Regions from separate parts of the Homo sapiens genome. Here regions 1, 3 and 4 are each linked to region 2. Evidence: fine-mapped expression QTL. A gene starts in region 2. Each other region holds a variant in brackets. All regions are shown on one strand. Distances are from middle to middle.

Region 1 (2,686 bases), 28 kb after region 2:
AGTGACATGGGAGGCTATAGAAAGTGACATGGGAGGCTATAGAAAGTGACATGGGAGGCCATAGAAAGTGACATGGGAGGCCATAGAAAGTGACATGGGAGGCCATAGAAAGTGACAAGGGAGGCCATAGAAAGTGACATGGGAGGCCATAGTGACATGGGAGGCCATAGAAAGTGACATGGGAGGCTATAGAAAGTGACATGGGAGGCTATAGAAAGTGACATGGGAGGCCATAGAAAGTGACATGGGAGGCCATAGAAAGTGACATGGGAGGCCATAGTGACATGGGAGGCCATAGAAAGTGACATGGGAGGCTATAGAAAGAGGAGATACAAGGTTCTAAGTGCAGGCGATAATGATCTCTATTTGGGACTGGCTTCATTTGAGGTGCCTTTAGGAGAGCCGAGTGGCCTATGCACAGCTGGGTCTGCTATGCAGCAGGAAGGCTAAGTTGGAGACAGATGTGAGAACTAACCATGAAGGAGGTAATAATGCAGACCAAGGGTCTGGTTGAAATTTCTTCTCCCCCAGTCCAGGGTGCAGCGGGTGAGTGAAAATATGTGTGTTTGTGTGTCTGTCTTCCTAGTCGGGAGAGAAGACTGAGTTTGTGGCTCTGCGGAGCATCACCATTTAAGGAGGGGGAAAAGGAGACAGAAGGAATTACCAGAACACTCCAGAGGGCTCCAAGACTGTATGGTGGGATCTAGATGGCCAGGAGGAGGGGAGCAAAAAGGAAAGAGTCATCCACAGTATCAGTAGGATGCCAGTTGAAGTGTTTTTGCTGCCTCCCGGTTATCGGTGACTTTGATGAAAGCTGTCTTCTGGTGGTCATGGGGGTGGAGGCCAGATCACAAGGAAGCTGGGAATGGTAGATGAGATAGTAGGGGCTTGCATATTCATTACTGTCTCGCAGAGAGAAACCTGAGGCTAAGAGGGGTCTTGGATCAAAGGATGGGGTGGGTTTATCTGGTTTCGGGGCTTTTGTTTTTAATGAGAAGGAGTCATTTCTGTGCTGCTAGGAGGGATCAATGGAATAGGTGGGGTTAAAGATACAGTACGGAATCTACAGTTGATGGCTTGATGTGACAAGGTCCTCAAGGAGCCTGAAAGGAAGGGGTGGGGTCCAAGGGCAAAACCGAGGTATGAGAAGAAGGATGCACAAGGATGGTTTCGAGTAGACAGTATTGTTGGTAGGGACATGAAGGAAGTTTAGTGGTCTATTGCAGCTAGCCTGTGTTCCCAGTGAACCTGGAAACAAGGTTCTCATCTGTGCTCAGGCCTCAGGCCAGAAAGGGCAAGGCAGCAGAGGGGCAAGGCAGCAGGCTGAGCCCCATTTCCCCTTGCCATAATACTGCTGTGCCCCTCTGGTACCGAAAATCAGGAGTTTCCAGTGCAATATAATATTATACAAGTTACACTGTATTATAATGTGTATTGTCTTTTAGTGTGTTAACCAAATTACTGCAGTATTAAATGCAAATTATACTTTGTTTAACTGATTCTTCTCTTCATTTTTAGTTAGAAATCCTGTGTTCTGTCAACATTCTCCAGTTTATATTCATTGCCTTAAGACTGGACAAGATCATCCACTGGCCCTGGCTTGTATGTAACTTTTAAAATCCTTAAATAAA[G/C]TTCTTTTTTATTATAAAAGTAATTCATATTCACTGTACAAAGCTTGGAAAAGACGGACAAGCAGAAGTAATAGCCTAATAGTCACCCATAATCCCACCATGGGGAGATAACATGGTTAGTGTTTTTATGTCTGTGTTTTATACAAACAGTTTGGATATAACTGTGTGCACCATTTTGTATCCTGATTTTTTTGTTTTAATGTTGTATCATAAACATTTTATCATGTTAATAAAAGGTCTTTATAAACATGACTTCTAAAGTTTAATTGATACAAAATATTCTTCAAGTGCATGTATCAGACCATCCTCTTATTTCTAAAATATGGTATTTCCATTGTTGCCAGTGTTGAATGATTTTAAATCATACTGCAGTATATATGTTTATGCATTAAAATTTTTGCCTTTTGTTTTTTGGTTGTTTTCTTAGGAAATAGTCCAGAAATAGTGTTACTGAGCTAGAGGTTGGGAACTATTTGAGATTCCTATATACGTATACTGCACTGCCAACTTGCTTTTCCAAAAGCCATACCTGGCCAGGCGCAGTGGCTTACACTTACAGTCCCAGCACTTTGGGAGGCCGAGGTGAGCTGATCACTTGAGCTCAGGAGTTCGAGACCAACCTGTGCAATGTAGCAAGACCCTGTCTCAAAAGAAAAAAAAAAAAAGCCATACCCATTTACACTCTTGCTGGTGGTGGCATCTATGTCATGCTTCTAAACTGTGACTTCAGTTACTGGGCATTTGGTTGAAATTAACTGTGAATAAATGGGTAGATGGATGCAGAGATAGAAAGATAAGTGGCAAGGTAGAAATTAGAGAACACAGTATAGATTCCACTATTAAATGCATGGAAAAAAGATGGAGACTAAAGGCAGAAGAGTTCCATTGCCACTGGGAGGTAAGGTCATGCTAGTGTTTTTGTTCGGTTTTATTTTCTCTGTTGTTTGATGTATAATTTTGCATACAATATATTTTATGTATTAAATATAGCTACCCTTAAAAAGTGAAAAGTATAGTAAAGAATTGGGAGCAGAGAAGAAATGAAGGGAACCTAA
Region 2 (2,686 bases):
TCACCCTTACTTGCTGGCTCGCTCAGGGCCTGTTATACAAGCTTCTCTGCGCCTTAATTCCTCGTCTGTATTTGAGTGTTCATTGAGAACCTCCTCTGGGCTACACATTGGACTTTACCCAGAGGATGGGAAAGGAAGATGGGTGAAAAAGTCTGGGACAGGGTCCTGGTGCTTCAGCAGATGAAAACTTGATTTGGATTACTCAACCTTAAAATCAGCTCATATAATAATATCCATTTCCCAGTGGGTGTTGGGAAGCTTAATTACCACTTATGATATGTTTTTACGTTCTCAGAAGAAAGGTGATACATCAAGACTAAGTATGACTATCGCAATTGTGATTCTCTCAAGCTGCCCTTGGGGCTAAACAGTATAAAATTGTCATTTGTGAAACTCTGCTATTGCAACAAAGGATGACTATTATCCATAATGATAGTAGACTAATGTTTAAGGCATTGTTGTGCTCATGAAAACTTAAATCTGCCCAAAGTGAAGATGGTAAACTAGGTCACCTGCTATGAGCTTGTCCTGCTCTTGGATTCCAAAAGCAAACAAAATCCTTGAGGAGGTTGACACCTGAAAGAGTACCAGATAGCAACAGCATTCTTTGTACACCTAGCATGTACCAGGCAGTGTGTTATGCACACGATCTCACTGAATCTTCCTAACACGCTTAGAAAAGAGGTTTTTATCATTTCCATTCTGCGGAGGAGAAAAACTGAGACTCAAAGATGTTGACTTGCCCAAGGAAGATGAACCTGGTACTTGTAAGTAGGGCAGCCTGGAGTGGAGGCAGAGGTCAGGTGTGAAGTGACCACAAAGTTTAGACAGGATCCAAGGAGGCTCTGAACTGGGTTAGAAAAATGAGGATGATTTCCACGTCTCCTGCTTGAATACCCCCCTGCGTACGAATAGGCCTGCTGCTAAGGGAAAAAGGGAACCCAGGAGGGGAAGGCGGTTGGCACGGGAAGTGACTTTGGTGCTAGGTAACTTGAGTAGGGAATAGCCAGCATATCTGGACACGCTGGCTTGGGAATTGGAAGGGAAGTTGGGACCCAAACTTTGGAGTCGTTGACAGATGTGACAGGTGAAGCCTGGGATGACATCGCCAAAAATGCAACGTCTCACTCATTGTCACTACTCCCAGGGCTCAGTCGTCACTGGGGAAAATCTCCAGAAGGTAGCGCGGGCCAAGGTGACAGGTGTCTGCCAAGATCTGCCCGCCAGACTCCCGGGCGGCGCGCTCCCTCCCTGCAGGCCTTCAGCCCGTCAGCATCCCCTTCCTCGGGGCCCTGCTCACTCCCAGCCTCCATCCCCCTGCCATCTCCTCCGCCGGTCGCGTGCGGACACAAGGATGGGGACCTCCCAGCGAGGAGCGCTCTGGGCGGGGCTCCGGACGCATGCGCGGCCCTCGTACGGAAGCCCGGAAGGAGGGGCAGGGGGCGGTGGCTCAGGTTTCTCCGGGCGGCGGCGGCGGCGGCGGCGGCGGCGGCGGCGGCGGCGGCGGCGACGGCGACGGCGACGGCAGCGGGGACGGCAGCAGTAGCGGGAGCAGCAGCGTGGACGCGGCTGGCGCTGGCGCCATGAACCCGCTGTAAGGCGCAGGCTGTGCAGCACGGGGTGCGGGGGAGGAGGAGGAGGACGCCGCGGTGAAGTTCTCCGCCATGAACCTGAGGGGCCTCTTCCAGGACTTCAACCCGAGGTGAGGCGGCGTCGTTGGCGCCCCCGGGAGTCCGCGCTGCGGGCTCGGGCGCGGGCTGGTGTTCGGCTCCGGGGAGGCACGGCGGGCGAGATGCTGCAGCCCGAGGACCCGGGCGCCTGCCCGAGCCTCCCTGCGGGTGCAAGCGGTCCCCAGGCAAAACAGTCGGCCTCGGCGCCCGCCCGCTTCCTCCTCCCGTGCCCGGTGCTTTCAGCCCCTGCCCGGCCACGGCCGGAAGGGCCCGGCCGCGAGCCCCGTCCTGCCCCAAGGGAACCCCATTCTTTTCTGCTTGCTGTCCCTCATTGGTGTCCCAACTTCTTCGTCTCGGTTCCATCCTCTTCTGCGCCGCTGCGGGCCCTCCATTCTCCGCGTCAGGGCCGTCTCACTCGACCCAACACCCCTACCCCCACCCCAGCTGTTTCCTCCAGTTCCTCGCAGTCCTTGGGGTTTTCCTTGGGTTTATGCCCATCCCTCTCTTGTTTGCTTCTTTGTTGAACGGATACCTGAAACACTGTTGAATCCTTGGAGTCAGTGTCGGGGTATGGCAATACCTTATATAATGCATTTCTGGGTGAGCCTGATCATTTTCCATACTCATTTTCTCATCAGTCTTCACTACAAGTTTATTTGCAGGAAGTAGATATTGCTGTCCTTCTTTTCCAGATGGGGAACACCCAGTGGACAGTGTGGAGAAAACACTGGCTAAGCACTCAAGCGCCTGTCCTTGCACTTGCCCGACTGTTTTGTAACTGTTCTTTACCCCAGGCTGTGAGCTCCCTGAAGCTGAGACCATCTCCTGCTCATCTCAGTGTCCCCAGCGCCTCCCACCCACCGTATCTGGCACATAGTAGGCACATATAAAATGTTTGTGGAACTAAACTGAGCCCAAAGACTTGGATTGGAGACGAGGCCATATGTAACTGGGTGATTCTCTGCCCTTCTTTGGCCCTTCTGTAAAATGAGGAGTTGGCCTAACTGATCTCTTAA
Region 3 (2,686 bases), 130 kb before region 2:
GAGTAAATCTGAATACCTGGAGGACACCCAGAGAGAGCAGGCACCCTGAAATCTGCTCCATCTGTCAGCCTTTGGCATGCCATGCAGGGCTGTCCGTGTAGTGCCCCTTCACTTTGTGCCTCCCACATCTCAGAGAGGTAGGGCCCTTGGTCTGAGGCAGGTTGTCAGGTCAGCAGAGGGATAGACACCTGCTCAGCACAGGGTGGAGTCCAGGATCTGCCAGTGGGTCCGGAATTGGTGGGTTCTTGGTCTCACTCACTTCAAGAATGAAGCCGTGGACCCTCACGGTGAGTGTTACAGTTCTTAAGGGCGGCGTGTCCAGAGTTTGTTCCTTCTGATGTTCGGAGTTTCTTCCTTCTGGTGGGGTTCGTGGTCTCGCCGGCTCAGGAGTGAAGCTGCGGACCTTCGCGGTGAGTGTTACAGCTCTTAAGGTGGCGCGTCTGGAGTTGTTCGTTCCTCCTGGTGGGTTTGTGGTCTCGCTGGCTTTAGGAGTGAAGCTGCAGACCTTCGCGGTGAGTTCGCGGTGAGTGTTACAGCTCATAAAGGCAGTGTGGACCCAAAGGATGAGCAGCAGCAAGATTTATTACAAAGAGCAAAAGAACAAAGCTTCCACAGTGCGAAAGGGGACCTGAGTGGGTTGCCACTGCTGGCTGGAGCAGCCTGCTTTTATTCTCTTATCTGGCCCCACCCACATCCTGCTAATTGGTCCATTTTACAGAGAGCCCAGTGGTCTGTTTTGACAGGGTGCTGATTGGTGCCTTTGCAATCCCTGAGCTAGACACAAAGGTTCTCCACCTCCCCACTAGATTAGCTAGATACAGAGTGTGGACACAAAGGTTCTCCAAGTCCCCACCAGAGTAGCTAGATACAGAGTGTCAACTGGTGCATTCACAAAACCTGAGCTAGACACAGGGTGCTGATTGGTGTGTTTACAAACCTTGAGCTAGATACAGAGTGCCAATTGGTATATTTACAATCCCTGAGCTAGACATAAAAGTTCTCCAAGTCCCCACCAGAGCAGCTAGATACAGAGTGTC[C/G]ATTGGTGCATTCACAAACCCTGAGCTAGACACAGGGTGCTGATTGGTGTGTTTACAAACCTTGAGCTAGATACAGAGTGCCGATTGGTGTATTTACAATCCCTTAGCTAGACATAAAGGTTCTCCAAGTCCCCACCAGACTCAGGAGCCCAGCTGGCTTCACCCAGTGGATCGGGCACCAGGGCCACAGGTGGAGCTGCCTGCCAGTCCCGCGCCGTGCGCCGGCATTCCTCAGCCCTTGGGTGGTCGATGGGACTGGGTGCCGTGGAGCAGGGAGTGGCGCTCGTCCAGGAGGCTCGGGCAGCACAGGAGCCCACGGAGCGAGGGGGAGGCTCAGGCATGGTGGGCTGCTGGTCCCGAGCCCTGCCCCGCGGGAAGGCAGCTAAGGCCAGGCAAGAAATTGAGCACAGCAGCTGCTGGCCCAGGTGCTAAGCCCCTCACTGCCCCGGGCAGGGGGGGCCAGCCGGCCGCTCTGAGTGCGGGCCTGCCCAGCCCACACCCACCCGGAAGTCGTGCTGGCCCGCAAGCACCGAGCGCAGCCCCGGTTCCCGCCTGCGCCTCTCCCTCCACACCTCCCCGCAAGCTGAGGGAGCCTCCGCCAGCCCAGGAAGGGGCTCCCACAGTGCAATAGTGGGCTGAAGGGCTCCTCAAGTGCTGCCAAAGTGGGAGCCCAGGCAGAGGAGGCGCCGAGAGTGAGCAAGGGCTGTGAGGGCTGCCAGCATGCTGTCACCTCTCACCAGTAGTCAAGGAGAGGAATATTGGTGAAGACTGAAGGTAAGAAGGTACCCTCTCACATGCCAAGAAAAAGGGATCTCACAAATCCCAGCTTCCTCTGTTTCCCTCGGCCTCTCTTATGATGGCATACTGGGTGATGAGCAGAGCATGCCCAAGTCTGGCCTCCTGATAATAGTCCTGGGTGTGATCTTCATGGAGGGGAACTGCGTCCCATGGAGGTTATGTGGGAAGTCCTCAGCATTATGGGGGTGTATGCTGGAAGGGAGCACTTCCTCTTTGGGGAGCCCAAGAAGCTCCTCACCCAAGATTGGGTGCAGGAAAAGTACCTGGTGTACCGGCAAGTGCCTGGCAGTGATCCTGCATGCTATGAGTTCCTGGGAGATGAGAGAGGCCTGAGGGGACCCAGCACCCCAGGACAGGGGGCCCACCCCGCCCCCATCTTAGACTGAGGTGCCTCCTCATTCGGCGTTGGGAATCTGAGGGATGGAGACTCAGGTCCGCAGAGGGATGGGTAAGAAGTGGGATCCCTCCCATTGGCGTTGGCTATGTACTCAAGAACTTGCATCTTGCTGGTCTCAGGGTGGGCCCTTGGACCCCACAGGGGACATTGGTGGAAACAGCAACACCACATGTCCCTTATTGGACAGAGCAAAGGGATATGGAGAATGCTCACCCTGTGTTTCCTAAGGACTGCAGGGCTGCAGCAGCTAGGACGTTCCATGCACCCCACATCCTCTCCTACAGGCATTTCAGGGTCCAGCATCCTCCACAGCAGCCTCCTGTATGGACACACATCACACAGGACTGGGACAATTCTGAACATCACAGGGCAGAGCAGATGGGAGCATACCTGTGCCCATCCGTGGATAGGTCTTGAGGGTTTCCAGGTGCCCCAAACCTGCCCCCTGAGGGGC
Region 4 (2,686 bases), 77 kb before region 2:
GGATGTCAGTGCTGCAGTGAGCTGTGTTCACACCACTGCACTCCAGCCTTGGAAATAGAGTGAGGTCCTGTCTCAAAAAAACAAAACCAAACCAAACAATCAAAAACCAACAGATGCCTGAGCTTGACAGTCATCTTGGCTGGTTAAGGAATTACGTCTGTCAATTTTTGAAAAAATAGAATTGCCATCTTTGCAATATTCTGTTCCCTATCAATGATATCATATACTGCCTTGTTTATTTGGGTGCTCTTTGAACTGGATATATCAGTACTTGTATAGTTGCCTCAGTAAAAATCATACATGCTTTTGTTAGTCTTCTTGTTAGGTAATTTTTGGATATTGTTGCTATTGTGAATGGGGTATTTTCTATGACCTGTTCTTAATAGTTATTGTCTGTTTTGCAAATCTTTTGATTTTGCTTTATTGATCTTCTGTTCGCTATTTTTCACACGTCTCTTATTCATTTGACTATTTCAAGTGTGCATTTTTTTGAATTTTCTAGATAGACTGTTGCATTACCCTACCAAATATCACTCTTTCTTTCCAATACACATACCTCTTATTTATTTTGGTATCCATATCTGTGGCTTTGTATTCCAATACAACTTTGAAAAATAGCAATGATAGCATACATTTATGACCTGTGCCTGACATGAATGCGTCCAACATTTTACAATTAAGTATATTTGCTATCAATTTGATGAAACAAAATTTCCTTCTACTCTTAATTTTCTAGTTATTTTTATCATGGATGATTACTAATTTTTTCAAAATATTTTTCTGTATCCATTAATATGATCATATGTTTTGCCTCTATAATCTTGTTAATATAGGGAATCACACTGAAGGTATATTTTAATGTCAAATTGTATTTTCATTCTTTGGATATATCCCGTTTTTCCATTTAGTACACTGCCCTAATGAATTGGCTATTAATTTATTTAGGATATTTGTTGCTATGTGAGTAACTTTGGTTTAAGTGTTCTTTTCATGGTGAGGTCCTCTTCTGGTATTTGAAACAAAGAACACTAGTCTCAGAAAATGAGTTCCACAGTTGCCCATCTTTTTGTATGGTTTTTAAGAGTTTGCTTAGGATGGCAATGAGTTCTAATTATTTGGTAAAACTGGCCTCTGAAACTTTCTTTTCCTGGATCATTTGTGGGTGGCTTGAACTGAGAATACAGTTTTAGTTTGTAATGTTTGATTAAAGTTTTCTGTTTCTTTATGGACCAATTTGATCTTTTTTTTTTTTTTTCGAGACAGAGTCTCGCTCAGTCGCCCAGGCTGGAGTGCAATGGCACAATCTCAGCTCACTGCAACCTCCTCCTCCCAGGTTCAAGCAATTCTCCTGCCTCAGCCTCCTGAGTAGCTAGGATTTCAGGTGTGCGCTACCACACC[C/A]GGCTAATTTTTGTATTTTTAGTAGAGACGGGGTTTCACCATATTGTCCAGACGGGTCTCGAACTCCTGACCTCGTGATCCACCTGTCTCGGCCTTCCAAAGTGCTGGGATTGCAGGCGTGAGCCACTGCGCCGGGCCATTTTTTTTTTTTTATAAAATATAGTTCATTTCACTTAGGATTTCAAATTTAATGGCATGATATTATGATGAAATAACTTTATTAAAGTGTCAGACATGTAAAATAGTATAGTATAATATACCCAATATACTTGATATTCAGCATCAAAAATCTTCAATCCATTACTAATCTGTTTCCAACTATACTTCTACCTACCCCACGTCTCAAATGCTGGAATAATGTAAACCAACTCAGTAACCTTGGATAGAATACTGGATCCAATAAGCCAGTTCATGGTACAGTGCAGCTGACCTGGCTCTGAGACAGCCTATGGCTCAGAGAAAAGGGTCTGGCTTCAATAGACCAGCCTCCCTAGACCCCTACCTCCTACTCTCTGTTCCAGGGTCCTGAGGTACTGCACGCCTTTGTTCTCTTCTAGACACATGCTCCTATAATACTGCTAGCTAATACTGCTTTCCAGACACCCTTGGGTCTCTCTCCAAATATCTTCTCTGTGAGGCCTTCTATGAATAACCTTTCTTTTTCTTCATAGAATTTGTGTCTTTATTATTTATTTTTGTAATTTCACTTTCATTTTAGATTCAGGGGGTACGTGTGCAACTTTGTTACATGGGTATATTGTGAGATGCTGAGATTTGTGATATTATTGATCCCGTCACTCAAGTAGTGAGCATAGTACCCAATAGTTGGATCCTGACCTTTCATCATATACAAAAATTAATTCGACATGGATTAAAGATTGAAATGTAAGACCTCAAACTACAAGAATCCTAGAAGAAAACCTAGGAAACACCATTCTGGATATCACCCTCGGGAAATAATTTATGACTATGTTCTCAAAAGCTATTGCAACTAAAACAAAAATTGACAAGTTAACCTAATTAAACTCAAAAGCTTCTGCTCAGCAAAAGAAACTATCCACAGAGTAAGCAGACAACCTGCAGAATGGAAGAAAATATTCCCCAACTACGCATCTGACAAAGGTCTAATATTCAGAATCTATAAGGTGCTTAAACAATTGAACAAACAAAAACAAATAACCTCATTAAAAAGTGAATACCCTTTCTAAAATTGCAATCCTCCCTCTTAACTCATCCCAAACACTTATTCAGTTCTCTAGATTCAATTTGTTTCCATAGTATTTATCAC

Evidence for each region. PIP is the estimated chance that this variant, and not a neighbour inherited with it, causes the effect.
Region 1: its variant is fine-mapped to the expression of TMEM185A in lung (TOPMed, PIP above 0.99). The same link has a PIP of 0.9 or more in uterus and whole blood.
Region 3: its variant is fine-mapped to the expression of TMEM185A in whole blood (TOPMed, PIP 0.94).
Region 4: its variant is fine-mapped to the expression of TMEM185A in whole blood (TOPMed, PIP above 0.99).

Annotation. Positions count from the first base shown.
Region 1 is chrX:149,602,903-149,605,588 of GRCh38, reverse strand. TMEM185A (transmembrane protein 185A) reads left to right here. Exons shown (of 7, transcript NM_032508.4): 4 at 1,519-1,602. Among named protein-coding and RNA genes, the nearest start is that of HSFX2, 8.9 kb to the right of the region's middle. The variant G/C (reference allele first, on the strand shown) is at 1,632.
Region 2 is chrX:149,630,559-149,633,244 of GRCh38, reverse strand. TMEM185A (transmembrane protein 185A) reads left to right here and starts at 1,453. Exons shown (of 7, transcript NM_032508.4): 1 at 1,453-1,702. The coding sequence starts at 1,665. RefSeq lists silencers at 1,491-1,900, 1,911-1,960.
Region 3 is chrX:149,757,484-149,760,169 of GRCh38, reverse strand. It overlaps the pseudogene LOC100420322. Among named protein-coding and RNA genes, the nearest start is that of HSFX1, 15 kb to the left of the region's middle. The variant C/G (reference allele first, on the strand shown) is at 1,038.
Region 4 is chrX:149,707,855-149,710,540 of GRCh38, reverse strand. It overlaps a transcript of MAGEA11 not described here. Among named protein-coding and RNA genes, the nearest start is that of MAGEA11, 2.9 kb to the left of the region's middle. The variant C/A (reference allele first, on the strand shown) is at 1,399.